5 separate regions of the Homo sapiens genome follow, and regions 2, 3, 4 and 5 are each linked to region 1. Evidence: fine-mapped expression QTL. A gene starts in region 1. Each other region holds a variant in brackets. All regions are shown on one strand. Distances are from middle to middle.

What was found.
Region 2: its variant is fine-mapped to the expression of PARVB in sun-exposed skin (GTEx, PIP 0.98).
Region 3: its variant is fine-mapped to the expression of PARVB in whole blood (INTERVAL, PIP above 0.99). The same link has a PIP of 0.9 or more in B cells, CD8 T cells and monocytes.
Region 4: its variant is fine-mapped to the expression of PARVB in whole blood (Lepik 2017, PIP 0.95).
Region 5: its variant is fine-mapped to the expression of PARVB in subcutaneous fat (GTEx, PIP above 0.99). The same link has a PIP of 0.9 or more in esophagus muscle and gastroesophageal junction.

What each region holds. Positions count from the first base shown.
Region 1 is chr22:44,020,672-44,026,738 of GRCh38, reverse strand. PARVB (parvin beta) reads right to left here and starts at 2,437. Exons shown (of 13, transcript NM_013327.5): 1 at 2,288-2,437. The coding sequence starts at 2,399. It overlaps LOC124905131 (a long non-coding RNA gene), which reads left to right and starts at 3,964. Exons shown (of 2, transcript XR_007068125.1): 1 at 3,964-5,288. RefSeq lists enhancers at 170-279, 780-829, 900-949, 990-1,069, 1,080-1,159 and silencers at 1,930-2,139, 2,190-2,239, 2,310-2,429, 2,460-2,569.
Region 2 is chr22:44,083,463-44,089,529 of GRCh38, reverse strand. All of the region lies in intron 1 of PARVB (parvin beta), which reads right to left. Among named protein-coding and RNA genes, the nearest start is that of PARVB, 62 kb to the right of the region's middle. The variant G/A (reference allele first, on the strand shown) is at 3,019.
Region 3 is chr22:44,166,235-44,172,301 of GRCh38, reverse strand. PARVB (parvin beta) reads right to left here. Exons shown (of 13, transcript NM_013327.5): 13 at 1-3,700. The coding sequence ends at 3,624. Among named protein-coding and RNA genes, the nearest start is that of PARVG, 12 kb to the left of the region's middle. RefSeq lists enhancers at 1,684-2,205, 4,096-4,875. The variant T/G (reference allele first, on the strand shown) is at 3,098.
Region 4 is chr22:44,182,446-44,188,265 of GRCh38, reverse strand. It overlaps PARVG (parvin gamma), which reads right to left. Exons shown (of 14, transcript NM_022141.7): 3 at 4,858-4,948; 4 at 2,394-2,458; 5 at 388-490. The coding sequence starts at 4,936. Among named protein-coding and RNA genes, the nearest start is that of PARVG, 4.4 kb to the right of the region's middle. RefSeq lists enhancers at 5,761-5,820, 5,164-5,820. The variant C/T (reference allele first, on the strand shown) is at 3,080.
Region 5 is chr22:44,054,435-44,060,501 of GRCh38, reverse strand. The region is part of intron 1 of PARVB (parvin beta); the gene reads right to left. Among named protein-coding and RNA genes, the nearest start is that of PARVB, 33 kb to the right of the region's middle. RefSeq lists an enhancer at 4,464-4,964. The variant C/G (reference allele first, on the strand shown) is at 3,028.

The DNA.
Region 1 (6,067 bases):
CGACGGTGCAGCAGGCAGGGTCGTGGAAACCTCCCAAGCGCCCTGTCACTCCCTGGTAGGCAACCGAGCATAGCTCTGACGGCCCAAAGTCAGGGCCAGGGGCTGCTCCACCCTGGAGTGGCAGAAGCGCATGTTGCCAAGGCAAATGGGCTTGCGGAAATACCAGCGACTCTCAATTATTCAAGCCCTCATTATCCAGTCTTCCTGACTCTTCCACTTCCCAGGAGACCACACAGAAGCCGCTAAACCCTTCCCAATCCAGCCTGTCCCTCAATTCCTGTGCCTAGATCCAAGGAGGGTTTGTGGCCCTCTGTTTGCCAGGCACCCCAACCCTGAGAACCGAGGCAGGGCGCCCAGCTCACCCCCAGCGAAAGCAGCATCAGCAGTGCCCGGCGTCCTGCTCCTCCTCCTGCCTCCACGCCCGTTCTATTCAGCACAGGATGCTTCCTGCTACCGGAATTCTTGGTGCATTTGAATTAAACCAGGCTGGGCCTGAATTTTCTAGACACACATCAATTCATACAGGCAAGGAGGAGAAGCACTGCGTACTTTGGAATTTGGGCCCAGTCCATTACTTTGGGTGTGTGTTCTTCCTATTCCGAGAGCGTAAACGGCACCTAGAAAAAGCTGCAATAGCCCAGAACATTCCGGTTCCTTGCCATTCTATGAAAGACTTTTTCCTCTGGTTCCTTCTGGCCTCCACTCAAGTGTCCCCTCCTCAGAGGCCTCCCCTGGCTCTGATCGCCCTGTTCTATGTGCTCCGGGGCACGTCATCACAGCGCCAGTTGTCTATGTATTCATTCCCCGTTCCACGAAAGCAAGCACCCCGCCCCCGCTCTTTTCTTCCTGGGGTCTAAGCAGCACCTGGCCCATGGCGGGCGCTCCACAGGCTGTGGGCTGAATTGGGAGGGGAGCGTCACTTGCGTCTATAATCGTTGCAAGCCATAAAGAGGAACCGAAATGATTTCTGGTGAGGGTGCTGATGACTGCATGGAAGAACAGTGGGGATGATAGAAGGGTGACAGCCACTAATCATGTCATTTAGGAGACGTGACCAACACCGACCAATACAAGCTACAGTGGGTCCTCCAGTGTAAGGCTTGAGAGAAGAGTGACCTATCCGCCAGGAGACCTACTGAAGGGGACAAGACCCTGCCCTCTTGGAACAGGATCACGGGTGGGAAGACACGCATCCCTGGGGGCACAGGCATCCCTGGGAGAAAATGTCTGGGGAACCAAGCGTTCCCTGCACTGTACAAAAATCCTGGGGAGCAGGTGCATGGGGGCACACACATGCCTAGAGGCAAATCTGTCATATGTCTTCCCGGGGCACACACATCCCTAGGAATACAAGAGTCCCAGGGAAGAAATGAATGGGGGACCTGCATCCCGGGGTACACTAATCCCTGGAGGCACAGGAAGAGTTCCCAGGGGATATGTCAGGCCCAGGTGGTTTAAGGAAACCGTACTGCATACCCGCTATGGGAGGGCTCCTTCCCGGGGACCCACCTGAGGCCGGCCTTTCTCCATCTGCCTTTCCACAGCAGCTCCCCTCACCTCTCACCAATCCGAAATCTCACTATAGGGCATGGTCCCGGGGCAGAACCTCCCCACCCAAGCAGAAAATTCCAGAATGTATCTCCCAGGAGGCCCTGGGCAAGCGGTACACTTAAAGACACCAGACTATCCCTTGCAACTCTAACAATCTTTAAAACGTACGAGGTTGGTAGTGTTTCGTGAGCACACGCAGTAAAAAATTTAAAAAAAAAAATTTTTAATGGGATCTCTGCAATTCTTGCTCGCAGGCCTCCCAGGCCTCAGCCCTGCACGCCCTGAGCCCCGCACCCTGCAGGGCGCCCGCGCAACACCCAGTAGTGGGTCCCCCAGGCCGTGTCTGCCCAGAGTGCCCTGCACACGTGAGCGTCACTGCTCATGGAATGAACGGTCACCCCGCGCGGCTGGCTATGCCGCTGGCCCAGGGAAGAGCTGAACACCCGGCAGGCAGAGCAGGCGCGGGCCCCGCACGGTGGCCCGAGGTCCCCGCCGCGCAGGCGCCCGCACGCGCGTTTGGCAGACTCCGGAGGCCACCGCGGCCCCACGCGCCAGGTCCCGGCCGTTGTTTACGGGTCCTGGGTCAAAGGCCTGGCCTGTCCCGAAGGTCGCGCAGCCGCGTGGGCCGGGCGGGGTGCGTGGGGGAGGGCGGGGGCGGCCTCGTGGGGCTCTAGGGCCGAGGGCGGGCACCGCCGGGCAGGTCCCCGGGGGTCGGCGGGCGCGGGCGCGCACTCACCCTCGCGCGCCCTCCGCTTCCTGGCCAGGGTGCCGCCCAGCTTGCCCAGGAACGACTCGTCCTTCTTCATCCTGCGGGGCCGCGGGGTGGGCGAGCGCGGCGCGGAGGACATGGGCCGCGCGTGGGGCCGGCGGCGGGCGCAGCGCGTGTGGAGCCGCCCGGTCGCCCCGGGGAGAGGCCGAGGGCGCGGCCCCGCCGCCGGCCCCCGCCCCGGTCCCGCCCCCGCCCCTGGCCTGGAGCGCGGCCCCGGCGTCCCGGATGCCCGAGGCCTGCTGGTCCCGGCCAGAGCCGTCCCCGTCCCGCGCCGCCGCTCAAGCTCAGAGAAGGGGCGTGGGGCCACCCCGGGAGCGGCGCAGCCTTTTCCCTACGCGTTGGAGCCCTGGGCTCTGCTCGGCTCCGCTAGTGGTGCCGGATCCAGGCGACAGCGCGACAGACACCATTGCCACGTGGGTGCAGCCTCAGGACGTCCTGAAAGCCGGAGAGAATCAGGTCACACGAACGTGGCCGGTCTGTTGTTAAGCTTCTGCCAAGAGCCAGGCCCGGGGCAGGGGGAGCCCTTCAGAACTGGGAATTGTCCCTACCCACGGGAAGCTTAGAGGATGGAGGGCAATGCGGGGCACAGGTCATTGGCCTGACCTCCAAGGGGAGTTCCAGGAGTTGTTTCTGGAAGAGGCGACGGGGAGGCCCCAGGAAATGGCTTGCAGGCCGGTACCATGAGGTGAGCAGAAGAGCAGGCCCTGGGGACAGTGTGGGGTGCCAGGGAGGGGAGAGGAGGGGAGACAGGCCTCGCATGTGTTGGAAGCAGAGGAAACGGCTTCATCCCGAGGACTGCCAGACAGGGCTATTTTTATTTTATTTTATTTTATTTTATTTTATTTTATTTTATTTTATTTTATTTTATTTTATTTTATTTTGTTTTGTTTTATTTTATTTTATTTTTTTAGACGTAGTCTTGCTTTGTTGCCCAGGCTGGAGTGCAGTGGCACAATCTCGGCTCACTGCAACCTCCACCTCCTGAGTTAAAGCGATTCTCCTGTCTCAGCCTCCTGAGTAGCTGGGATTACAGGTGCACGCCACCACGACCGGGTAATTTTTGTATTTTTAGTAGAGATGCGGTTTTGCCATGTTGGCCAGGCTGGTCTCGAACCCCTGACCTCAGGTGATCCGCCTGCCTCGGCCTCCCAAAGTGCTGGGATTATAGGTGTGAGCCACCATGCCCAGCCTAGATACCCAGGCAGGGCTTTGAGCTGTGATGTCACAGATGTTGCCTCTGGCTGATGGCTGCTCAGCAGGTGCTGGAGACAGAGAAGGCACAGGCAGGCGGACGGTGACTTAGGAGAAAAGCAAACAGATTTCTGAGATGCTCACAGCCAGAAGCCCCAGCCTTGAAGAAGTAGGAGGAGTAGGCCAGGTGCAGTGGCTCGCACCTGTAATCCCAACACTTTGGGAGGCCAAAGCAGGCAGATCACCTGAGGTCAAGAGTTCAAGACCAGCCTGGCCAACATGGTGAAACCCCATCTCTACTAAAAATACAAAAATTATCGGGGCATGGTGGTGGATGCCTGTAATCCCTGCTACTTGGGAGGCTGAGGCACAAGGATCGCTTGAACTCGGGAGGTGGAAGTTGCAGTGGGCAGAGATCATGCTACTGCACTCCAGCCTGGGTGACAGAGCGAGACTCTGTCTCCAAAAATAAAAAAAAAATAAAAAATAAAAAAAAAGAAGTAGGAGGAGTGAAGGCTGGGTGTCCTGCCAGGCCATGGTGGATCACTCAGCAGAGGACGGCACCTGGGGAGAAGTGGGTTCAGCTCTGGGTGTGTGGGTTGAGATGGTTTTTCTGTCTCCCTTTGTGCTGGCTGCCCCCCAGTCCCCCCAGTGCAGTACATGTTTCTGTTGGTCAAGTTGGTGCCAGGCCCAGTCCTCAGCCAGGGGCGTGAAGACCAAGGGCACAGAGCTTTGTCCTCCAGGAGTTTGTGGTCAAGGAGAACGTGGGCACAGGACACAGTGGCCGTGTAGCGTGGCCAGCATGGAGGAGGGACAGGGACCATGTGGATGGGGTGGGGGAGAAGTGCTGTGGGCAGAGGAGGCTTGCAGGGAAGGGACATTTGACCTGGAACAAGGATCAAATGCCCTTTTCCTTTCAGTAAAGGAGGAGAAGACCCACCAGGCAGAAGAGACAGGGAGAGGACACTGGGGTGTCTTGGGGCTGCCAGCACAAAGTTCCATGAGCTGGAGGGCTCAGAACAACAGAAACGTCTTCTCTCACAGTTTGGAGAGAAATAACAAGGTCTACGGGAATTATGAGGCAGGCACGGTGGAGGAAAACCAATTGATAAATATCATCATCTCACAAGGGTCTTTGCAGATGATCAAGTGAAGATGAAGTCACCAGAGTGGGCTGTAATCCAAGATGACCGTGTCCTTGTAATACCCCTGTGTACTGGGGATTAGGATTTCAGCAGGAGGCCAGAAATCCAAATCAAGGTGTAGGCTAGGTTCATTTCCATTTGGAGGCTGCACGGGCAAATCTGTTCCCTGCATCTCTCCAGGCTCCTGGGGTTTGCCAGCAAATCTTCCATGTTCCTCGGCCTGTAGAAGCATTGCCCCGTCTCTGCCTCCGTCTCTACTAGGCCCTGTGTGTGTGTGTGTGTGTGTGTGTGTGTGTGTGTGTGTGTGTGTGTGTGTGTGTGTGAGTCTAGACTTTACAGGGACACAGTCATGTTGGATTAGAGCCCATCCTGGTGATTCATCTTCACCTCATCATCTGCAAAGACCCTGTGAGATGATGATATTTATGCATTGGTTTTCCTCCACCATGCCTGGCTCATAATTCCCATCACCCTTGTTATTTCCTCAGTGACTATAGCAATAAGCAGATCTTTTGTTACAATATTTGTTCTTTTTTCCTTGGTTCCTGAAGCAGTGTGGAAACAGCTTCAGAGCAATAAAGGGGAACGATAGTCCTGTGTTATCATGTTGGATCTTTGGAAGCAGGCTTCAGGTGTAGTTTCTCTCTCTTTCTGACCTTCTTTCTCCTTCCCTCCTTTCACCTGCTCCTTTTTCTCCCCAAGTCAGGCCATAGAAAATGAAAATATACTTGAATCTTCCCCCACCTTTCCATCTTGGAGCTGGCCGTGGAGAAATTCTCTGACCTGCCTTGTCTGACTGAGGGTCACGGGACCCCCATTTCAGGAGGAGTCCAGCCTCCCGCCCAGGAGGAAGAAATGCTATACAGACAGGCCTTGCGGGGCTTCACCACTCTGACTGATGGTGTTGAGTCATACTGTTTTTGTCCAATCACACTTCGACATGGTTGTCCAGCTTCAATTGTGCTTAGCCAATGAAGGCTCCATAAAAACCCAAAAGGGGGGCCAGGCGTGGTGGCTCACGTCTATAATCCCAGCAGTTTGGGAGGCCAAGGTGGGTGGATCGCTTGAGGTCAGGAGTTGGAGGAGTCAGCCTGGCCAACATGGTGAAACCCCGTCACTACTAAAAATACAAAAATTAGCCAGGTATGGTGGTGCATGTCTGTAATCCCAGCTACTTGGGAGGCTGAGGCAGGAGAATCGCTTGAACCCAGGAGGTGGAGGTTGCAGTGAGCCGAGATCACGCCACTGCACTCCAGCCTGGTCGACAGAGTGAGACTCAGTCTCAAAAAAAAAAAAGAAAGGACAGAGTTGGAGAAGCTTCCAAATAGCTAAACACATGGAGGTTCCTGAGGGTGGTGCACCTGGGGAGGGCAAGGAAGCTTAATGCCCCTCCTCCATCCTTGCCCTACCA
Region 2 (6,067 bases), 63 kb before region 1:
GACAAACCCTTCAAAGATGTGAAGTGCCGGCTGTCTTCAGTCACAGAGAAAGATCTGCTGGCCCGGGTGTGCTGGCCCGGGTGTGCTGGCACAGGCGCGCTGGCACAGGCATGCTGGCATGCATTCTCTCAGTGTCTGGAGGGTGTGGAGGGTGTGAGCTTCCAAGGGACTGGGGCTTGATTTCATGAGATGGGTGATTAAGGGAAAAAGACCGCCTTGTGCTTGTTTTCCTAAGTGTCTGCATTGTTCTAAGATGAATGTCTCTGTCCACACGAAACCCAGCAGCCAGCCACGAGGGAGTCGATGCCAACTCGTTCCCACCGCAGCAGAGTTCACCTGCAGCACCACGCTCTGTGGCCTGCACGGGGGGCCAGGTAGGAAGAGAGAGACAGGAGGGCATTTGATAGGAGGAGGGCCCCTTGGCACACTGTCTCTGGAGACGGGCACTCCTCGCTCAGCCCGGGATGGCAGAGTGGGAAGTGCAGGCTGCAGTCACCAGATCTGAGTTTTCAAGAAAAGCTGGAAATGTGGGGTTTGGTGTGGAATCTCCCCATTTATAAATACGAGCCATTAATTCAAATTTTGTGGGCCAGCCAGAGGGCACACAACCTCGGATTACAGAACATACTTGTCCAACCCATATTGCTGACTGTCCATTGGAAAGGGGGAGAGCACCACTAACGTTTCCTGAGCACCTACTATGTGCAGGGCATCTTCCATGCCAGCCATTCACCTTGTCTCCTAACAAGTCTGAGGGAGGCCGGGCACGGTGGCTCAAACCTGTAATTCCAGCACTCTGGGAGGCCAAGGTGGGCAAATCACCTGAGGTCAGGACTTCGAGACCAGCCTGACCAACATGATGAAACCCTGTCTCTACTAAAAATACAAACATTAGTCAGGCGTGGCAGTGGGCGCCTGCAATCCCAGCTACTTGGGCGGCTGAGGCATGAGAATTGCTTGAACCTGGGAGGTGGAGGTTGCAGTGAGCTAAGGTTGTGCCACTTCACTCCAGCCTGGGCAACACAGCGAGACTCCGTCTGTCTCAAAAATAATAACAATAATAATAAATAAACAAGTCTGTGAGGGAGTGGCTGGTCCTGTGCTGTTAGATGTGAAGCCCCAGAGTCAGGACTAAAGCCAGTTCTACCTGATCTTGCACCTCACTGTGCCCTACTAAATCCTACCTATCTTCAACCTCATCTTACTGGCCGCCTCCTCCAAGAAGCCCTCCTGGGTGTTCCCCTCTCCCCAGCTGAAGCCACACAGCCATGTAACTATCTCCTTCCCGAACTTGCCTTCCTGCCAGTGCCAACCCAGTTCCTGCACATAGTAGGCCTTTTAATATATTCAAGGAGCAGCACAACAGAGAGCTTAGAATCCCAGAGCCAGGCTGCTGGTTTTGGATCCCAGCTTGACCACTGACAAGGTGTGTGACCTTGGGCAAGCTGCTTGACGGCTCTGTGTGTCTCAGTTTCCATCTGTAAAGTGGGGCCTAACACACCTCAGAGAGATCACAAAGATTCAGGGACACACACCCTCGGCACAGTCGCCAGCATGCAGCCACCCCTCGGGAAGCGTCAGCTTTGAGTAACTATAATGGTGGAATATGTGCGGCTTCCAAAGCCTCCACCCAAAGATTGGGCAAGGTTTAAAAAAAAGAAAAAAGAAAAAAAAAAAAAAAAACACCATCGTTCCTGATTTGGAATTACAAGAACATAAAAGGAAAGAAAGAGAATCAAAAACTAAAAGCATGTCATCAGAAGCCTGCCATTTATACCTCAGGCCAAATGCGAAAGTTCCATCTTTGATTTTTTTTTTTTTAATCTTCTTCTTTGTATGGTTGTATTTATTTATTTATGCCCAGGCTCTTTCCCAAAAAAGGATTTTCAGGCAGCTTTTTTTCCCCCTTTTGATATTATTAGGAAAACAACTTTGAAAGCAAGCTGGTTTAAAGAACAAGGTTACCTTAACGGAGAGAAGAAATCTGAAAACACAAAGGCTGATCAGCTTCTTGCTCCACTAGCAGAACCAGGGCAGGACACGGGGGATGGCAAGGCGCCCCTGCAATCACGGGCCCAAGAGCCTCACTGGGGGCTTGCCTGGAGGGTCTGGCCCAGACACAAAGGCCCAATGGAGGCTGAGCCACAGGTCCTGGGGGGCCAGAGCAATGGCAACTCCATTTTCTGACACTTTTCTAAGTGTGTCATTTCAACACAGCAGAGATGCTTTGCCACCTACGGGGACTTTCTACACCATCCGTGCAATTCCTGGTTTTCATAGAGAACAAAAGATCAGGGCGAGAAATTTCAGAGGGCCCCGTCTGAACCAGGATCAAAGAGAAAACCCCAACAAAAACAGCCATTCTCCATCCCTGCACATCTAAAAGAACTGGAAAATGGCAGGAAAGCTGCCCCAGTTTTAAACACTTAACCAGCCCTTTTCAAATCCTACCCACTTCTAGTTACAACTGATCCTGCTCAAAGAAACAGAGTGGTCTTCAGAGCTTGCGGGAGGATACAGGAGGAGAAAGAAAGGTGCGGCTCTGTGCCAACTCACGCCACCAGCTCCTCTTCCCAGCTGGGGAGGGGGCATCGGGATCCTTCGCTTGGGCTTAAGCAGGAACCCAAAGACATCTCTGTTAAATGAGGTTTTCCAGGCCTCTGCCAGGAAATGACAGCTTTCTATGAATTTTCCAACTTCCATCCGTACTCAGAGGGGTGTGGTTTCTTCGTAGAAGCTGTAATTTATCAGAATAACTAACTTCATCAGGCACGAAGGTCTTCTTAACAGAGCAGTTTTTCTAAAAATAAGTCCAGTTGTACTTCAGTGAAGATCTTGCAGCTCAGTGGAGTTAAAATAAGACCTAAGTGAGATCTAAATCAGAATAAAAACATCATCAGCCTCGGCAGCTGGGAGGAGATGCTGTTGGGCAGTCTTTTCTGACATCCAGAAGGAAGGTGATTGGAGGGAGTCGCGGATCATAATTCAAAGGGCTGAGCTGTTGCTGGCACATCACGC[G/A]TGCAAAGGCCTTGAAATGTGAGGCCTGGCCCTCCCCAGGAGGTTACGAACTCCAAGTCCAATCTCCAAGGTTCTTGGGATTACAAATCGGAGGAATAACAAAGTGTCTTGCCTAGGATAAAAGGCAGCAAAGGCTAACAGTGCCAGAGAGCAGCTGCTCCTCCTGGCCCGGACATGGGAAAAGAGGGAAAGGACTTCCAGTGATCCATGGAGCACAACATACAAGAAAGCGCTTCTTGACGTTTCAAGTGGCAGATGTAGTTTGTTTTTGCCGAGAAATGGATGTGGGCCCTTGTCATGCAGGATGCCGGCCCAGGGTAATGAGCTCGGTGTATTTATGTACATGTAACTCACTATCATCTCTAAGCCAAGGATGAGTTTCTGAACGGTGCTGACATGACTAGAGGAGTAAGAAAGCCCCGTGACTGTGGCCCAAACCGGAAGGATCGCTCAGCTTGAACATCTGATTTATGGGGCTTGTTGTGCTGGGGCATGAGGTTCCAGCCCATTTCTCAAGATGAAATAAGTTGAGAAGCTAAAAGAAATGTGTGAACATTTCAATAAGGTAAATCCAAAGAAGGTCAACAGGTGGCGCAGACTCCACATCAAGAGCTCACTGCTGAAACCCTGTCCTATTCAGATGGCAGCAAGCCTTGGGCATGACAGCCTGCTGATCTAACTAACACTGGTGGATGGATGCCAAAGGGCTGGGCATGGGGCTGGGCAGGCCCTGCCCTTGCACCGTGGAGAGTCTGCGTGTAGCCGAGGGAAGACGTATCCTGGTCACTTCCACCCAGCAGCCGACCTCGCACCTGGCACAGAAGGCTCGTGAAGGATTCGATGCACAATTAATTAAGTGCAATACATAGCATGGTGTTGAGATTTTTTAAAAAAGCAAAAGCAGGTTGGGCCAGCTGCAGTGGCTCACACCTATAATCCCAGAACTTTGGGAGGCTGAGGTAGGTGGATGGCTTGAGCTCAGGAGTTCGAGACCAGCGGGGCAACAAGGCAAAACCCCATCTCTACACAAAATACAAAAATTAGCCAGGAATGGTGGTGTGAATCTGTAGTCCCAGCTACCCAGGAGGCTGGGAAGAAAGTTTGAAGCCGAGAAGCGGAGGTTGCAGTGAGCCAAGATCACGCCACTGCACTCCAGCCTGGGTGACAGAGCCAGATCTTGTCTCAAAAAATTAAAAAGAAAAAGAAAAAGAAAAAGAAAACCATGTTGCAGAACAATACAGCAAAGGCTGGGTGTGGTGGTGTACATCTGTTGTCCCAGCTACTTGGAGCTGGGGTGGGAGGATCACTCGAGCCCAGGGGTTCAAGTCCAGCCTGGGCAACATGGTGAGACACTTTAAAATAAATACAGCATGATATTTATGTAAAAAATACAACTAGAAAACTCACCACTATGTATTTCTATGTGTACGTATCAAAATTCACAGAAAAAGAAATGAAAGGGCATGCTCCAGAATGACAAGAGCAGCATTACTGATGCAAGGCCCAGTGGCTGAAGGTAAGGAGGAGACAGAGGGAGGCTCTGCCACCAGACTGTGTTCTTGTACTCCTTTTGAAATAAAAATAAAGCTACAAGAATGGAAAATAAACAGATGTCCTGGCAGGGTTATGTACAGGGTGCAGTGGGGACCCTAAAGGAAACAAAGTGGCAGCCAATTCTACAGGGAAGGACACACACTGGGTTCAACCATAGAAATGGCTCTGAGACCCAGAAGGAGTCTCGGGCCTCTCCCGGCAGCACTGGCTGCCTCGGGGGACACAGTGAGCTACCCTGAAGGAGGGAGGAAGCTGGGGAGGGAAAGTCCTGCACGGTCCCATCCCCACAGATGACTGCAGAATAATAACATGACTCTGAGACTATGGGTGACAGCAAAGGCCCTGGCATGAGTGTCTGTGCCAAGAACGCAGCGGAAAGAACCAAGATGCCAGACCTGGGAGTACCCTTGGCAGGCTCACATCTCGTGCCCTATTCTTGGATTGGCCAGTGGGGCTTTCTCACCAGGATGGCCACCTTGGCCCCTGCAAGCCCTGCCCTAAACTCTTCCCACCCCAGCCCAGCCTCTCCCCTTCTGGAGGTGACTGTTATGGACACCATTGCTTTTCTTCTCCAGCATCCATTGATCCTTTCAGGCAAACAAGACTCAGCCTCCCTCAGAGAGAGCCACCCCTCCTGCCACCATGCTCGGGCCTTGTAGTTCAGCTCTGGGGTGGAGCAGGCATCCCAGGACAAAGCCAGCTGGCACACTGGCCTCCCAGGAACACAGTCAGGGATGGGCATGGCCCAGTTAGAGCTAATGAACTGCACTGAGACTTTACCAGGAATAGAGAATGAGACAGGCACTCCTTCCCACTGGCCTTGACCCAGAAAGGATGGAGGTTGAAGCCGTCCCATCATCTTACCACTATACAGAGCCTGGAGATGAAGGCACCAGATCGAAAGAGCTCGGGGAAGGGGAGAACAGAATCTAGGATCTAGCAACACCTTCTATGTGCTGGATCAAGCCTTACCTGAGGCCATCCAACCCCACAGACCATTCTGTCAAATGTACCAGTGAATTCTGTTTTGCTTTTAAGCCATTTTGAGTTGGGTTTTCTGTCCTTTGCAAACCAAGAGAGTCCTGTCTGATGTAGAAATCCTTCCAATACACAAAGCTGGCGTTGGTCACTCCCTGCTGCAGTGCACCCCATGGCTCCCACCAGCTCCAGGGTAAAACGCAAAACCTTCATAGTGGTACCCGATGACTGTTAATGAGCAGACCCCTCCTCTCATCAATACAGCTGCAGTTACCATGCTTCCACACTCATCGTCTGATGAGGCCATTCCAGGCCACTTCTGTAGGTCATATCTCTGCCCCTCTGCTCGACTGTCCCCACAACCTGCAATGCCCTTCACTTCAGGTCAGCTAGCTCCACCCATTTCCCACCGTCTGGAAAGCACACTCTGCACATCCTCTATCCCTGGGTGCAGTTCGGGCCCCTCCTCTGGGTTTCCACAGCTCCCCGTGCACATGACAATGACAAACCCTATTCC
Region 3 (6,067 bases), 150 kb before region 1:
TCCCAGAATTTCTCTGAACTAAGAACCAAGAGCAGCAGCAGACGGGGCATCTCACACCCAAGCCTCATGTCCCAGCAGCCATTCATCCCAAGCCTATAGGAATCGAGTTCACCCTGAATTCTGCCTTGGAACTGGCCCCTTGCTGCATCTGTCCAGGCCATGCTATGAATTCAGACTCAAACTGATGGTGAATGGAGAAAAATGAGGAGTCGAGCCTAATGGGGCCCTTCCCAGGTATGCAAAAGGCACACCTACACCTTTGAACCAATTGGAAAAGAATGTGGACAAAAGATCACATCCAAGCCGGGTGCGGTGGTGTGCACCTGCCGTTCCAGGGACTCAGGATACAGAAGTGGGTGGATCACTTGAGCCCAGGAGTTCAAGGCTGTAGTCTGTAGTCTGCTATGTGTGTGTCTGTGAATGACCACTGCACTCCAGCCTGGGCAACGCAGTGAGAACTTATCTCAAAAAAAAAAAAAAAAAAAATCACATCCTTTGCTGGAAACATCGCCTTTAAGGGTCCCTGTTGTGAAACACAAGTGCCCATGTAGCTTCCCCACAGATCTTATGATTCCTTTTACTGTTCGACTTGAAACCCACAAGAGTGTGACGTGGGCATGAGGATAGGCATGGGTTTACTGGTTTACTAGATGGGGGCCGCCAGGACCTCCCTGAGAAGCTGAAGCCCCCTCCCACAGTAACCGTCCTCTCCCCTCTGATGACACAGAATGGGCCAGGGCTGCTCATTTTGGCTGAAAATCACAGCTCTGTTCTTTTCTTTTTCTTTTTTCTTTCTTTTTTTTTTTTGAGACAGAGTCTCACTCTGTTGCTCAGGCTGGAGTGCAGTGGCATGATCTCAGCTCACTGCAACTTCCACCTCCTGGGTTCATGCAATTCTCCTGCCTCAGCCTCCCGAATAGCTGGGATTACAGGCATACATACCATGCATGGCTAATTTTTGTATTTTTAGTAGACATGGGGTTTCACCATGTTGGCCAGGCTGGTCTCGAACTTCTGACCCCAAGTGATCCACCTGCCTCAGCCTCCCAAAGTGCTGGGATTACAGGCGTGAGCCACCGCACCTGGCCAAGCTCTGTTCTTTTCAAATCCCAATCCCTGGGAAGGCACAGTGCCCTCTCCAGGTCCACCTGTGAGCAGGGCAAGGCTGGGCCACTCCACCAGCTCCAGGGGGCCGCGGTCCTGTACATGCCATGCAGGCAGCACAGAACGTTCCAGCCCCAGGCTTTTTGTCAGTGTGGCTTTTGAATGTCACTGCATCCCGCAAGAGACACCGTAATGCTGTTTTAATTATTTCTTTCCCCTGCTGGGAAATCACCTCCATCAAAATGGCTATTCTGAACCCATCCCCAGCCTAGCAACAGCCGGAACTGAGAGGGAATATTAAACTGTTTTCTAAAACTTCGGTGTTGGCATTCGATTTCATATCAAAACTTACTCCAAAGCTCTGATCTGCGGCAGGAAGACAAAAAGCTAACAAGATCAGAAAGGCCAGGCTCACTACGGAGAATGCTGAGAGATGCCAAGGAAGGGGGCTGCTTTGCAGCAGGTGCACCCCAGGGGGTCAGCGGGTCATCACCCTGGGAAGGAGCTGGGGGAGGGGGGGGCGCCACAGCGAGGGACTGACTGCGACCAGAGGCCAGCCCAGAAAGCATGGCCGATGGGATCCCCAGTTCTCTGCAGAGCTGGGGTGAGCGAGGGGGTGAACAACCCATAACTGAGTGAGCAGCGACTCCTTTTATAGGATACTCTAAGGGAGATGCTCTCAGGGCTACAGGGAGAGTAACATGAACACTTCATATCCTCCCGGTACAAGGCAAATTATGCCCCCCACAAATCCACATGCTGAAGTCCTAACCCCAGCACCTCTGATGTGATGGTATTTGGAGACAGGGTCTTTATGGAGGTAATCAAGATTAAATGAGGTCATATAAGTGGGCCCTAATCCAATAGGACCGCAGCCCTTCTAAAAAGAGGGGTGCAGGCTGGGCATGTCCGCTCATGCCTATAATCCCAGCACTTTGGGAGGCTGAGGTGGGTGGGTCGCTCAAGCCCAGGGGTTTGAGAACAGCCTGGGCAACATGGTGAAACCCCATCTCTACAAAAAATACAAAAATTAGATGGGCCTAGTGGTGTGCACTTGTGGTCCCCGCTACTTGGGAGGCTGAGGTGGGAGGATCAATTGAGCCTGGGAGATCAAGGCTGCAGTGAGCTGAGATGGCACCACTTTACTCCTGGGTGACACAGTGAGAACTTGTCTCAAAAAAAAAAAAAAAAATAGGCTGGGCACAGTGGCTCACGCCTGTAATCCCAACACTTTGGGAGGCTGAGGCAGGCAGATCATGAGGTCAGGAGATCAAGACCATCCTGGCCAACATGGTGAAACCCCGTCTCTACTAAAAATACAAAAATTAGCCAGGTGTGGTGGCACCTGCCTGTAATGCCAGCTACTTGGGAGGCTGAGGCAGGAGAATCGCTTGAACCTGGGAGGCAGAGGTTGCAGTGAGCTGAGATCACACCACTGCACTCCAGCCTGGTGACAGAGCGAGACTCTGTCTCAAAAAATAAAAACAAAAATAAAAAATAAAATAAAAGAGGCGGTGAGGACACAGACACACAGAGGGGAGACCATGTGAAGACACGGGGAGAAGCCGGCATCTACAAGCCAAGGCGAAAGGCCTGAGGATGTAATTCTCTGATGTCTGAGCCACTCCCCTGTGGCACTTTACTACACAGTGCCAGTGAACCAATGCACCCCCCTCATTTTAAAGTTTCCAAAGATGCATTCATTCCCAAAAAGGGCCTCTGAAGGGGAAAGCTGTGACCCAAGCTGTCTCAAGCAGCACAATTAGAGCCATCTCCAGACCCAGCCCCTCAACCACAGCAAGAAATTAAGAAACGTCCCCAGCAGACAGCTCCTTTCAAGGACTGTGGGAGCTGGGCCATCCTGAGTCTTGGATGTTTGTGCAAAACCTACATTAAAACGAGTGACCAAGAAGTGATAGGAATGTGGGTGGAGGACACCCATGTCACATCTAAGCTTCTGGGACTTTAAAGTTTTTCAAACTGCAAAACCCTT[T/G]TATTTTTAATAAAAGGCCTCACTTCCAAGGAGAGCCCAGCCCAGGAGATCCCCGGTGAATCGTCAAGCCTGGGTCCTCGGGGAGCCGGCGTTCCTGCTGAGCTGATGTTGTACTTCTGAAGGCCTGTGATCGCTAACTGCACCATGAGGCAGAATGCAGGGTGCTCTCAACCAGCTGGGGGTTGGGGTTCAGGCTTTTTTTCATCTTTCGGCCAAGGCAGACAACAACGGACTCATCATCCCACGCGACTGAGTGACGCGAGGCTTCAAACGCAAGCACGAGTGTTTAGAATCCTGCATTTTCAAAGGCTCTTGCCCACTGGGAACTACATGGAGAGGAGATTAAGAACAACAACCAAAAGAGGCAGGGGGTGGGGCAGGCGTGAGGTAGGGGTGGGGTGGGGATGACAGTCAACACAGCTTGGACCAGAAGCCCATGGCGCCTGGCTCCCTGGAAAGGCACAGGGCACAGACGGATGCCGCCTTTCTTGCTGGGACACTCCTGCCACCATCCACAGCTCCCCCGTCACTCCACGTTCTTGTACTTGGTGAACAGGTTGTAAAGAACCCTCAGGGTGGATTTGAGGTCCAAGTTAACCACGTCTGCAGAAGGAAACAGAGAAACTTCAGAGGCGTGCCATCCTCCTGTCATTGCGGTAGGTACTCTCAGAAGCCACGTCTCCAGCATGACACCAGCTGCCGCATCCACACACAGCGCTTCCCCTTAAAGACTGGCCACCACCATGTCCAGGACGCTCTGGGCAGTGCCTCCCCAGACACACAGGTTTTGTGAGAGCTCCTGGCGCGGGCTGACACCCTGCGGGGACAGGCACCTGGGGTGACAAGAACAGAGACACTCCCACAGCCCCTCCTGGATCTGCATCAGGACATGTCTAAGAACCGGTTGGGGGACATGGCTAATGACACTTACCGGGACCAAAAACCCCAGTAACACTTAATGGACCCGACAGCTCCCTCTGGGGCCCTGGAAGTCTTGGGCCACTTTCTTTATGTGGACAAGAACCTTCCTGGGAATCAGACACCTTGTTCATTTCACTTGCTCTGTGACCTCTAAGTGACTTCCGTGATTTGGGGCTCAGTGCCTTCATCTGTAAAATGGGCCTGGACCAGGTAACGCTCGAGGCCCTTGGAGTCCTGACTCCCTGTGATCCAAAAGCAGCCATGGGATGACCCTGTGCTTTAGTCCTGATCACAAGAGTAAGAAACGACATCGGTTACTGAGAGAGCAGGTGGGGTGGATGCTAAGAATCAGCAACTGTCCTTGTCACTGGGCATGGAGTTTCTCGACTCACACACCCTCATCAGAGCCTGCACAGCCTCCTTTCCTTCCCTCTCGTTTTACAAAGAGGACCAAGACTCACATGGAGAAATGACCTGCCCACGAGTGTGCTGTCAGAGCAAAAGCAGGGCTGAACTCAGCTCGGTGGGCTTGGGGACACACCCGGGGCTCTGTCGGGGAACTCGGCTCGGCGGGCTTGGGGACACACCCGGGGCTCTGTCAGGGATCCCAGGGTCTCCCCCTGACCTGAAGAGTCCACCCCAGCTCCCAACAGCCCAGTGGAGGCAGGGGAGGGAGAATGGCGGCCATGGAGTTGGAGGTGGCCAAGGCGAGGGGGGCAGCAAGGACAGAGGAGCTCCCAGGGGTGGGGGCCATCACCTCCTGGCCCCCTCTGACTCCACTCCCATGGTGGACTCACAGGGAGACCAGAGCAGCAGCCTGACACCGATGCCCCCACGCAGCAGCCCCCAGGTCTGAGCTCTGAGAACTTCCAGACAGCCTCGCTGGACAAACAGAACTTAACCCTCACACCCCTGCCAGACCTGCTAACCACAGCCACCCCTTAGCACCTGCGCCCAGGGATAGGAATCACCTTCTGTGACCCATGAACCTCAGTCCCTCTGTGCTCCCCAAACACCCACCCCACCATCGAGCTCCGCACTCGGCTCTGTGAATTTGGAGCGAGCCACAAGCCTTTCTCCCAGGCAAGGGGCCTCCTTAAGAGCAGGGTCGGGGACCCCACTGGAGTCTCCGCCAGGTCCCCACAAGGGGGCAGGGGGCCAGGATGCCCATCATTGCTGGGGGCCTAGGGAACCAGGTGCAGGCCTGGCTCTTCAGACCCGCCCACGTGCAGGGGGTGTGAGACTGCTCTGCTTCCTCCGGGTGGGGACCAACAGGGCAGTCTCAGGCCTGCAGGGGAGGCCACAGCCACTGCCTCCCTCCCCACCAGCCCTGGGTACCCGGGTAAGTCTGCCTAGCTCAGAGGAGGGTGTCAGGGAGACCGCAGCCACTGCACCCCATTCTCCGTGTCATTCTTATCTCTGTTACCTCCTGATTCTTGCTCCCCAGCTGATTTTGAATGAAGAAGGAAAAGTCTCTCATTCATTGCATCAGCCACAAAATAAAGAGGCCCAGCAGGGACCCCATCTCATAAATCTCTGCGGCTTGGCCCCTGCCCAGTGCTGGCCCAGCGAAGGTGCTAATGAGCACTGCAGACCAGCTCTGCCCCCTGCCTGGGCTGGACAGAGGCCCTGGGACACCCAAGGGACCCTGCCTGGGAGGCTGCAGAACTTGCTATTTGCCCTGGACCAGTGCCTCTGCCTCTGGCCTGGTTTCCACACGTCCGTGGTGGGTTCCCTAACGTGCCGTCCAGCGGCAGATGAGTAGGAAACACATCCGGGCTCAGGGGCAAACACCCTCCTAGGAGGCCGGCCTGTCAGAGGATATCCTGGCCTCTGGACAGGCTCCTGCCTCACTCCTCAAAAACGGGACAAAGGGCCAGGTGTGGTGGCTCACACCTGTAACCCCAGCTCTTTGGGAGGGCAAGGCAGGTGGATCACCTGAGGTCAGGAGTTCAAGACCAGCCTGGCCAACATGGTGAAACCCCATCTCTACTAAAAATAGAAAAATTAGCCAGGCATGGTGGCGGGTGCCTGTAATCCCAGCTACTT
Region 4 (5,820 bases), 160 kb before region 1:
CCTGCCCCCAGCCACCCAGGACTGCCCGTTTTCTCTCTAGCAGCCTAGGGCAGCCCGAGGGCAGGGATCATGGGTTCTTTTGTTACCTCCCAGCACCTCAAAACAGCAGGCACTCAATAAGTGTTAGAGAGGCAGTGTGGTGTGGTAGAAAGAGCACCAACCCTGGCGTCAGAGCCCCACCCTGAGCCCCAGCTCGGCCCCCTCACTCATGGGCTGTGGACAGCGCCTCCATCTCCCCAGCCCAGGCCCATCTAGAAAGTGAGACAGGTGTCCCTAAACCCGGGACCATTGTGGGGACTGAAGGAGAGAGCCTACCTGTGGGCCCTGGAGGGGCCAGGTCAGGGGGATGGGGCCGAGGCCCAGGCAGCCCCAGAAACAGCCACTTACGGAATAGGTGGTGTAGGATGAGCCCGTCGAACATGTCCTCCTCCAGGCTGCGGACCACAATGTGCTCGGGGAGAAGAGTGGCATTGATCCACTCCATCAACACCTGCAGGCTCCAAGGGGACAACTTTTGGGGGGATGGAGACTTCTCACCTGGCCCTCCACCTGGCTCAGAATGCCTGCCTCTCGCCTGCCAACTCCTACCCATCTTTCAAGGCCTGGTCAAATGTCACCTCCACTGGGAAGCCCTCCTTGATCTCCCAGGCTGTTAGGGGCCTGCCCCAGGTTCCTGCAGACTCCCTGCTTCTCTCCATCACAAACCTGAGCAGTGTGGGGCTGTCATTATCATGTGTGAGGTTTTAGTACCAGGAAGTGGGGTACTACCATAGCAAATACCCAAAAATGGGGAAATGGCTTGGGGAATGGAAAGAATTGGACAATGAGCACTTGATAGAAAAAGCCTAGATTGCCCTGAAGAGGTGGTCAGTAGAAATATGGATGTTAAAGGTGCCCCTTCTGAGGTCCTAGGAGGAAATGAGGGACATGACATTGGACGTGAAGATGGAGGTGGGGACTGCAGTGATGCATCCACAGATCTGGGAGACCAGGATGCTGCAGCCATCACAGCTGGGGGAAAGGGAGAAGACAGGGGTCCCCTGAGAGCCTCCAGAAGGAGCCAAGCCTGCCGACCCCTTGGTTGAGGGCCTCTGGCCTGCAGCACTGTAAGACAGTAGGTTTCTGTGGTTTAAGCCATTCAGTCTGTGGTCACATGTTACAGTAGCCCTAGGAAGCTAATGCGGGGGCTGCTGGTACCCTGCCCACTCCTTGACTGTTGCCTACTGGCCCAGCTCCCACCTGCAGCTCTGCTCGAAACTGTCCCCACTCTGCTGTGCTCAAAAGGTCAGAGTGCCAGGGAATCAAGGCCCAGCCCTTTCTCAGGGAGCAGCTGTTCACTAAAGGTTGTCAGGAGGTTGTCGGGGCAGGGGTGGTGGTGTATAAATACCCCAGCTCCATCGCCCCTTGGGCAGGAATGCACTGAACTTGCTCTATGCTGGCTCCAGGGTACCCAGCAGGCTTGAGCCCCCAGAACCATGACCAGCTCCATCACTAACCATGTGTTGGCCCCTTCCCTCCCATGACCCCTGGGATAACCTCCCAACTCAACTACTGGCATCCAAATCCTTGTCTCTGGATCAGCCTGTGGAGGAGACCGAGCTGAGACGACATGTCAGCACCTCACCAGGTCTTCCGGGCAAGACCACAGATGGTGTCCCCAGTGCCAGTCACAGGGCTGGGCCAGGTGTGCTGGTCAAAGGTGGGAAAGGTGGATGGATGGAGTGAGGGAATAGGAAGGAGGATGGGAAATGGCCCACAAAGCCTCTGGGTATGGAAGATGGTGTAGGCCAGGAGGCCTCCCTGGAGGAGGCAACAGAGAGGCCATGTGGAGACTGGAGACACAGACGCTGAGGGAAACAGAGGCCTGGAGCCCACCTGTGCCGAGCTGGTCCAGTGGCCATAGCAGCAGACCCATGACCAAGGAGAGAACTAAGAATGGGTGACCCAGGCCCACCACCACCACCTCACCAGTTCTCCTACACCTTGGGCAGACAAGCTGGGGAGGAGCACGGGCTTAGGGGCTGGCAGCTCGTGTCAAACCACAGCTCCGTTACGGGCAGCTGCGTGCCCCTGACAGATGAGGTCACCTGTCTAAGCCTTGCTGTCTGTCCTGTCCCCGGGATGTAAGGGATAATAGATTCCCCTCAAATCCCATGGGGTTGCTGGGATGGTGTATGTGAAGGCACACAGTTGGTGCTCAATAGATGTTTGTTCATGCAGGCTCTGTGGGTGACTTGCTCCATTCAACAGGCCTTCCAGGGGTCTTCGGGGGTCGCCACCCCCCAGCCTGAGGCCAAGGAGTGGGGACAGCCTGCTGTCCCCGCCCCGTGGAGGCCGCTGCCTGGTCTGCCAAGAGGCACCCAGGGAAGTCAGGGCTGTGGAGGCTGCTGTACCTTCTGCAGTTCTTCAAATTTGGGGTCCTTCCGGGAAGTGGGTGGCAGGTATTTCTTCTTTCCTCCTGGAAGCAGAGTGGGTATGACAAGCGCATGGGGACCCTGTGGGGCGCTTGGCCACACTCCCTGCAGGTCACCCACAGATTTCAGCACCGCAGACCCAGGGGCACCGGTCCTGCCACTTCCGCCCCAGCGTGCTTTCCCTCATTTCCCTCACGAACACCAGCTCATCCTCAGACACTGCAGCATTTATACTTTGAGACATAAACTCGGAAGTTATTTCTTGATTACTTGACATTCAAAGTTAACTGGGTATCCTATGTTTGATATATCTGGCAACCCTACCTATTTAGGTAAAGTGAAACCCCAGCCAGAGAGGGGAGGAGGTGCCCAGGCTCACCAGGCTCTAAGGGGCTAAGGTGGGACTTACCCCAGGTCTGCCAGGCCCCTCCATGGCCCCTCTCGTAGTCAGACTCCCCGGGGTGGCCCTCAGAGGCCCAGCAGCTCCCCTTCCCCAAGGCCATGGCCAGCATCTGCCCACATTTTAGACTCACAGAACCCACAAAATGTCAGGGCCAAGAAGGACCTCTGAGATCAACTAGTTCCAAGGTACATGGGGGGATACTGAGTCAGCAGTGGCGACTGTCTTGCCTAAATTCACAAAATGCATCATCTCTCATGTGACC[C/T]CAATAAAGGCTTTTCCTAGGTATTCTGAAAACCTTCAAGTACTACCCAGACCCATGTCTTCTGATGAAAGGGAAGGCAACAGCGTCATGGGCTGTTGTGCCCAGCACAGGGCAGGCTCTCAGCAAACACTTGGGCGGGTGAGCAGGCGAATGAATGAATGAAGAAAGGAAGGAATGAAGGAATGAGTGAATGGATATGGTGCTGCTCCTTCCTGGAGCAGACTTCTTGCCGCTTGAATCATCCAATGTCCCAGCTCTGCTTGCCAGAACTTTTAGTAATTTAAATCAGTTGTAAAACAAAAAATTAATGGGTTTTTTTGTTTGTTTTGTTTGGTAGTAACTAAGTCCTACTATTCTAACTCAGCAACTTTCCTCAGGACACTTTCTAATCTTCAATGTTTTAAACACAGAATACCAGATGGTGACAAAGACAGCCAGGTGACTCTGGACCAAGCTTGTCCCTTCTGGGGTCTCATCTGCCGTGCCAGGGACCCTGTTGGCACTGGAGTTCTCGCTCCATAACACCTACTTAAAAGGCGGCATTCAGGGCTGGGTGCAGTGGCTCACGCCTGTAATCCCAGCACTTTTGGGAGGCCGAGGCGGGTGGATCACTTGAGGTCAGGAGTTTGAGGCCGAGCTGGCCAACATGGTGAAACCCCGTCACTACTAAAAATACAAAAATTAGCCAGGTGTGGTGGCAGGTGCCTATAAGCCCAGCTACTTGGGAGGCTGAGGCAGGAGAATCTCTTAAACCTGGGAGGCAGAGGCTGCAGTGAGCCGAGATCCTGGCACTGCACTCCAGCCTGGGTGACACAGTGAGATTTTTGTCTCAAGAAAAAAATAAATAAATAAACATTAAAAGGCGGTATTCACAGGAGCTGGAGAAAGCCGCATTCTGCTCCCTTCCCTTAAATTATTTCACACATTTTCTTTGTCAGCACATTTATGTTTTTGTGGTTACATAAATTCCAATGAGTTCACCTAAAGCCCTTCCCCACTGGGACATCTCGCTGCTTCCTTGCAAGCTGTTGTTCATTTGTTTCTTTCAGAGAACACAGAGAGGGTGACAGCTCTGGGTACCTGCCCATGTCCTTCTTTTGAGCCATCTCCTAGAAGGGAGGTTGCAGGAACTGTGGCCGCCAACCCCCCAAAGGGCTCATGACACAGAGCTTTACTGAAAGGGCGACCTATAGTCGTTGAATTGCTCCATCCTATGCTCACCCCACTTTTGAAAGGGACCCACACGTGTGAGGGGAGCACGTCAGGAGCCCCACACCCTGCAAAGTATCACTCCATGGTGGGCATCGCTGCGTGGTCCGTGTGGAACCTCAGTTCTGGGACCACCCTCCTTGGGCTCAGAACCCAGGTCCACCACTTGCTAAGAGTTTCCTGTTACTGTGGCACGTCACCCCTTGTGCCTCAGTTTCCTCATCTGTATAAAGCAGGCACTGATGCCCGCCCTTGAGAATAAATGAGTTGCTATTGGTAAGAGGTGCTGGTGCAGTAGGGGCACTCAGAAGGCTCACAGGATGAGAGCAATCAGTATTCACCATCGTAATCCACACCGTCTCTCATCTGGAGAGAAGAGGTTCTAGCTCTGTAGAAGGTCCCAGGAGGAGGAGTTAGGTCAAGCATAAAGCAGAAGGTGGAGGCAGGGGTGAGCAGAATTGGGCGCTCAGCTGACAGCTGGGAAGGTGCTGCAAGTCCCAGGCATGGCCAGGCTCACTCTTGCCACACAGACCTTCACCCTCCACCCTCAGACCTGCGTGGGCACACACCTTTTGAGAGCTCCTCCTCCGCTGGGGGCTCCACCCCCTTGGGGAGCTGCAGCAGGTCGTACAAGAACTCCGGCTCCATCGCCTCCCAAGCCTGCACAGAGGAGGCAGGAGAGGGCGTCACGGTCTGAGAAGCCCCAAACTCACTGAGCCCCTCATTTTCTCTAGACCTGGAGGCACAGAAGGAGGGTAGAAGCCAGGTTCTGGGGACACGTCAGCATGCCAGCCTAGGCAGGGGGTACGGGCCCTGTGAGAAAGAGCCCTTGAGCCAACCCTTGCGGGGTGACGGGTTAGAAAAAGGCACAGAAGCTGAGGGCGGGCACAGCCAAGCAAAGGCTTGGCGGAGGAAGTGGTCCTTCCTCAGGCAGGTGCAGAGCGGCCGCCCACCGTGCTCCTGCAGCCCCCAGCCCCCTACCCAGGGACCCCCCACCCTATCCCAGACAGGACAAAGTAGGTACAGCTCACTCCTCAGAGCTTGTCAGGTTGAGCTCAAGGGAAACCTCCCCGGTCGGCCTGTGTGGGGCTGGCTGAGGTGGATACGTGGAATGGTGACATCTCCCATCCCATAAACCGGAAGGGCCAGGGTTGACAGAGGCACTGTTCATCTTCCTCCTCCTCATTACAGGCAGAAGGCTGGGCTCACCACATGCCCGGGACAGGGGCAGACCCAGAGGCCAGCCCAGCCCTCCTTCCTGTTCCCCTGGCCCACTTCCTCTCCTGTGAAGGCTTCGCTGGCTCGGCTGGCGCCTTCTGGCCTCCCTCTTCCTCCCTTTTCAGCCCCTGGGTCTTCTCAGTGTTTTCAAACTCAATCAGACATTGAGGTAGGGGAGTCACATGGCAGAAGTTGGTGGCCAGAGCAGGGAGCCCCCTGAGCTGTGGGAGACGGAGGCATTCACTCGACTGGAGCCACCCATGTCACACCAGCAGCCAGCCTGGGGCGGGGGATGCCAGACTCCATCCTGCCCT
Region 5 (6,067 bases), 34 kb before region 1:
TTTTAGAACCTCAAAGCTCCCAGCTTCCACCATCTTTCCACCAGCAAGTTCTTCTGGCTCAATCTCCCTTTCTGCTGCTCAAACATTTAAAAGTTTCCTATTGAAAACGATTCCCTTGCCTCAGATCTTGGGACTAAAGATGGTCCTGTGACAATCAACCATGAAATTCTTTTCTTTTCTTTTTTTTAGAAAGAGTCTCTCTCTGTTGCCCAGGCTGGAGTGCAGTGGCAGAATCTCAGCTCACTGCAACCTCCACCTCCTGGGTTCAAGTGATTCTCCTGCCTCAGCCTCCCAAGTAGCTGGGATTACAGGTGGCTGCCACCACACCCAGCTAATTTTTTGTATTTTTAGTAGAGATGGCATTTTACCATGTTGGCCAGGCTGGTCTCAAACTCCTGACCTCAGGTGATCCACCTGCCTTGGCCTTCCAAAGTGCTAGGATGACAGACATGAGCCCCCACGCCTGGTCTCAGCCATGAAATTCTAATACAAAAGGCCACCTTACATTTCAGAGTGCCCTTTCCGCCTTCCCACAACATAGGAAAGAACATTTCTCCCGATAGCAAGCAGAGAAAGCATCGTGGTAGAGAAACTGCCACCTGGGTACCTCACATCCCCCTTCCATGATGCTGAGCAAACACGCCCCGCCAAAGACGACGAGTGCTGTTTAAAACCAAATGACAGCAGGCTTTGCAAGTGTTTAATAACACATCTTCTGTGCCTGTCAAACAAGCCAAGTGAGACTTTTTAAAGGAAAATGTGTACGGCATCTTTCTTTATTAAGCTGAGACAATCAACACCACGTACGTGACACCTGAATGTACACCCAACATTCACATTTTGTGGCAACAGGCATCTCTTCTCCCCTGTGAATGAGCTTGGGATACCATACCGGTGCCTTCTACTTCTCGAGGCTGATGGAGAGTAGCATTTATGCAAAAGGAGTACATCAGAAAAACTGCTCCTTACCTTATGGCTGACAAATGGAACAGGATGAAATGACTCAGCAGAAGTCAACCTAAAAGGGCTTGTCAGTGTGCAAGCTGTGGGCACTGTGCAAACACAAGCCTCACGGTGTTTTATTAATCCAAAGAGAAGAACAAGTCCTCCTCCCCTTTCCCATCAAGACCTAGAACAGTCTAATAACTAGCCACGGGGCTGGGCACAGAGGCTCATGTCTGTAATCCCAGCACTTTGGGAGGCTGAGGTGGGTGGATCACTTGATGCCAGGAGTTCGTGACCAGCCTGGCCAACATTGTGAAACCCCGTCTCTACTAAACATACAAAAATTAGCTGGGTGTGGTGGCGGATGTCTGTAATGCCCGCTATTCAGGAGGCTGAGGCAGAAGAATCGCTTAAATGTGAGAAGCAGAGGTTGTAGTGACCTGAGATCGTGCCACTGCACTCCAGCCTGGGCAACACAGCAAGACTCCCTCTCAGAAAAAAAAAAAAAAAAAAAAAAGCCACAGGGTGTGCAGAACTAAGAAGATACAATCAACTCTGCTTCTGTTTCCCCCCCCCATCACACCCTCATCTATGAAAGTAATAACAAGAAGGGTGACTGAGTGACCATAACTAGTGGGTTTTAGTCACTAACTGAGCACCAGGTACTGTGGGTTGAATGGTGTCTCATCCAAAATCCACGTCCGATGGGCGCAGAGGCTCATGCCTGTAATCCCAGCACTTTGGGAGGCTGAGGCAGGTGGATTGCCTGAGCTCAGGGGTTCAAGACCACCCTGCGCAACAGAGTGAAACCCCATTTTTACTAAAAATACAAAAATTAGCCAGGTGTGGTGGCAGGTGCCTGTAATCCCAGCTACTCAGGAGGCTGAGGCAGGAGAGTCGCTTGAACTCGGGAGGAGGAGGTTGCAGGGAGCCAAGATCGTGCCATTGCACTCCAGCCTGGGCTACAGAGTGAGACTCCATCTCAAAAAAAAAAAAAAAAAAAAAAATCCACGTCCACCTGGAATTGGACAACTGGAGAATGTGCCTTATTTGGAAACAGGGTCTTTGCAGATGTAATCAAGTTCGGATGAGGTCATACTGGACTGCGGTGGGCCCAGCTGGTGTCCACATGGGAGAGAGAAATTTGGATGCTGACATGCAGAGAGAAGACCATAGGAAGACACAGAGGGGCATGAAGGGGGACACCTGTGACAATGGAGGCTGACTGGAGTGACATGGCCACAAATCAAGATATGCCAGGACTGCCCACCGTCCCCAGAAGCCAAGAGAGTCAGGAAGGATCCCTCCCTGGAGACTTTAGATGGAGCAAGGCCCTGCTGACACCTTGATCTTGGACTTCTGGTCTTCAGAGCTGGGAGAGAATAAACTTCTGCTCTGTAAGCCAGCCAGTGTGGGGTACTCTTTTATGTCAGGCCTAGGAAATTAATGCAGATTTTGTATTATCTCAATTTATTATTTTCAAGAGCCCAGTTAGGCAGGTGCCTTCCTTTCCTCCACTGGACAGGGGAGGCAACCGAGGTTCAGGGAAGTTATGTCCCTTCCCAGGGTACACCCCAGACAGGAAAGCAGGCAGGAGGATGAAGCCAGGTCTAGCGGCTCTCAGCCCCACCCCTCTCAAAGAGCCCAGGCTTCCAGCAAAGCTCATGCCACACTGGGAGGCTCCTGGTCCCTGCTTGAGCCGTCCAACCTCCCCTCAAGGCAAGCATGAACCCACAGGGCTTCCCAGGACCTAAGCTGTGGGACTGGGGCTCCAGCCCCCTCTCTCTCCTCTCCCTCCTCTTCCACTCCCCTCCCCCACCAAGCGGGTGTCTGGTGCTAGACTGACTCCTCTCTCAGTCCCACAGGTGCCAAGTGCTGAGACACCGGGCCCCCTGCACATCTGGCAAGACAAACCGTGAACTGCAAGTGGGCCTCCTGCTATATCCACTGGTCTCCTGAGCTGACCTAAGGCAGGCCTCCCCCGAGACCCAGTCCACCCAGAGTGCGGATAAACTCAGGCTCCAAAACCACCCCTGCCAAGTCACAAGGGCCCCCCTTGGACAGCTCTCAGGACACAGCGTC[C/G]CAGCTCTCCTCGGGCCTCGCTCTTGGGTGAAATCCAGCATGAGCCTCTTCCCCCACTTTTGGATTTTTTGCGAGCACGGAGATTCTTTTTAGAAGCTTTATTGCTCTACAGTCACTTCATTAGTTCTAGAACCAAATAATCCCATTATATATGACTCGACTGGCTCATAAAATTATCATTCATTCTAACAAATATTTATTGAGCGTGCCACATGTGCTATGCTTGGTACATCACATTTTTAAAAAATAATTTACTTAGCTAATGATCACAAGTCCCCTAATTTAATTTACTCTTAAATGTGTTTAATTTTCCCACAAATGGAACGACACGCTTCTAAACTGAGCATTTTTGTCAGGTTGAGACACGCAGGACAAAAAAAAAAGAGAGAGAGAGAAAGAGAAACTTATCAGCAAGAAAGCCTTGGAACAAAAACGCCCCCAGCTCAGCCCCCAGCTCCACCCCCAGCTCAGCCCCCAGCTCCACCCCCAGCTCAGCCCCCAGCTCCACCCCCAGCTCAGCCCCCAGCTCCACCCCCAGCTCAGCCCCCAGCTCGGTCCCAAGCCTCTAACCCCTGGGCACAGAGCAGGTGCCATTTCCAGACATTTTATACAGTCACCCTCACCACCTGAGAGCTATCATCATTACCTGATTGAGAAAACTGGGGCACAAAGGCCAGATGAGGTGGCTCACACTTAATCCCAGCACTTTGGGAAGCTGAGGCAGGAGGATCACTTGAGCCCAGGGGTTCGAGGCCACCCTGGGCAACATAGTGAAACCCCATCTCAACAAATAATTAAAAAATTAGCCAGGTGTGGCTGTGCACGCCTGTCGTCCCAGCTACTCAGGAGGCTGAGGTGGGAGGATTGCTTAAGCCCACAGGGTCGAGGCTATAGTGAGCCGTGATTGCACCACTGTACACCAGCCTGGGTGACAGAGGGAGAACCTGTCTCAAAAACAAAAACAAAACGAGACAAAATGAAAACAAAACAACAACAACAACAAAAAATCTGTGGCACAGAGAGGTAGAGTAATTTGTCCGATCTGGTTCAGCAGGCAGGAAATGGCGCAGGCAGAATTCGAACCCGGGCAACGCTGCATCCGTGTGTGTGCCCTTCACCCACCTGCTCCCTGCCTCTTAATTAAAACTCAGCAGGAGGAAATCCACATGCAACTCAGGCACAGAATCACCCCTCCCAGGTGACAAAGGGACGGTGCTCCTGGTGTGGGATCCCACACGGCCACACAGCAGAGGCAGCGGTGCCCCAAGTAAATGGGGCTGTGCCCCAAAGCTAGGCTACTGCGTAAACTCGAGTCATAGGACAGCACGCACGGTGGGGCTCCCGTCATATTGGGGTCAAAGTCGGGCAAAACTAAAGAAAGTGAGGGACAGAGATGCATGCGTGTGCAAAACGCAAGGAAAGACAAGCAAGTGGGGCAGGGCCTGCTGACTAGCTGCCTGGACTGGGTGGGGAGCGGCCTGGTGCTTGGCTAACCATTATTCTGGGCGTGCCTGTGAAGGTGTTTCTAGATGAGGTTAGCATTCGAATCGGTAGACTGGGTACAACAGATGGCCCTCCCCAGTGCGGATAGGCCTCGGCCAATCCATTTGACACCTGAATAGACCGAAAGGCAGGGTAAGGGGATTCACTCAGCTGGGACGTGGGTCTCCTCCCGCACTTGGGCTGACGCCATTGGCCCTCCTGGGTCTCCAGCTTGAAGATCCTGGGATTTCTCAGTCTCGTAACCACATGAGCCAATAACTTATAATCAATCTCTTCAAATATATATATATATAGAGAGAGAGAGAGAGAGAGAGATGGATAGAGACAGACAGAGAGACAGGCTGGGCGCGGTGGCTCACGCCTGTAATCCCAGCACTTTGGGAGGCCGAGGCGGGCGGATCACGAGGTCAGGAGATCGAGATCATCCTGGCCAACATGGTGAAACCCCGTGTCTACTAAAAATACAAAAATTAGCCGGGTGTGGTGGCCAGTGCCTGTAATCTCAGCTACTGGGGAGGCTGAGGCAGGAGAACTGCTTGAACCAGGGAGTCAGAGGTTGCACTGAGCCGAGATCACACCATTCCAGCCTGGCGACAGAGTGAGACTCTGTCTCAAAAAAAAAAAGAGACAGAGAGAGCTACATATCTCCCATTGGTTCTGTTTCTCCAGAGAACTCTAACTAATACAACATGCTAAATGCAACGTTCAAGGCGGCACTGGTCACCTCTGGTGGGGAGGGAGGCGCACAGGAGGTACGGGGCATATGGCTCGGGGAACAGGTAATGTTATTTCTTAAGCTGGATAGCAGGAACGTGGGTACTTCCTTAATATTAGTCAGTAAACTATACATATGTACACTCTTTTGTATGTGTAATGTATTTCCCAGTATTTTTTTTTCATTCTTTCAATTGTAGTAAGGTACATTTAACATAAAATACATAAAATTTCTCACTTTAACCTTTTTTTTTTTTTTTTTTTTTTGAGATGGAGTTTCACTCTTGTCGCCCAGGCTGGAGTGCAATGGCGCAATCTCGGCTCACGGCAACCTCTGCCTCCTGGGTTCAAGTGATTCTCCTGCCTCAGCCTCCCGAGCAGCTGGGATTACAGGCGCCCACCACCACACCCGGCTAATTTTTGTAGTTTTAGTAGAGAGGGAGTTTCACCATGTTGGCCAGGCTGGTCTCAAGACTCCTGACCTCAGGTGACCTGCCCACCTCGACTTCCCAAAGTGCTGGGATTACAGGTGTGAGCCACCGCACCCGGCTACTTTAACCATTTTTAAGTGTACGGTTCAGTGGCACTAAGGACATTCACTGCTGTGCCACCATCGCTGTTATCCGCCAAACTCTTTTCTTCTTGCAAGGCAGAAACACTAACTCCCTGTCCCCTCCCTGCCCAGCCCCCAACCCCTGCCCCTGGCAACTGCCATTCCACTTCCTCTCTCTATGAGTTTAACTCTTCTAGCTGAGGAGCTCATGCTGTAATCTGAGCACTTTGGGAGGCCAAGGCGGGAGGATTGCTTGAGCCCAGGAGTTCG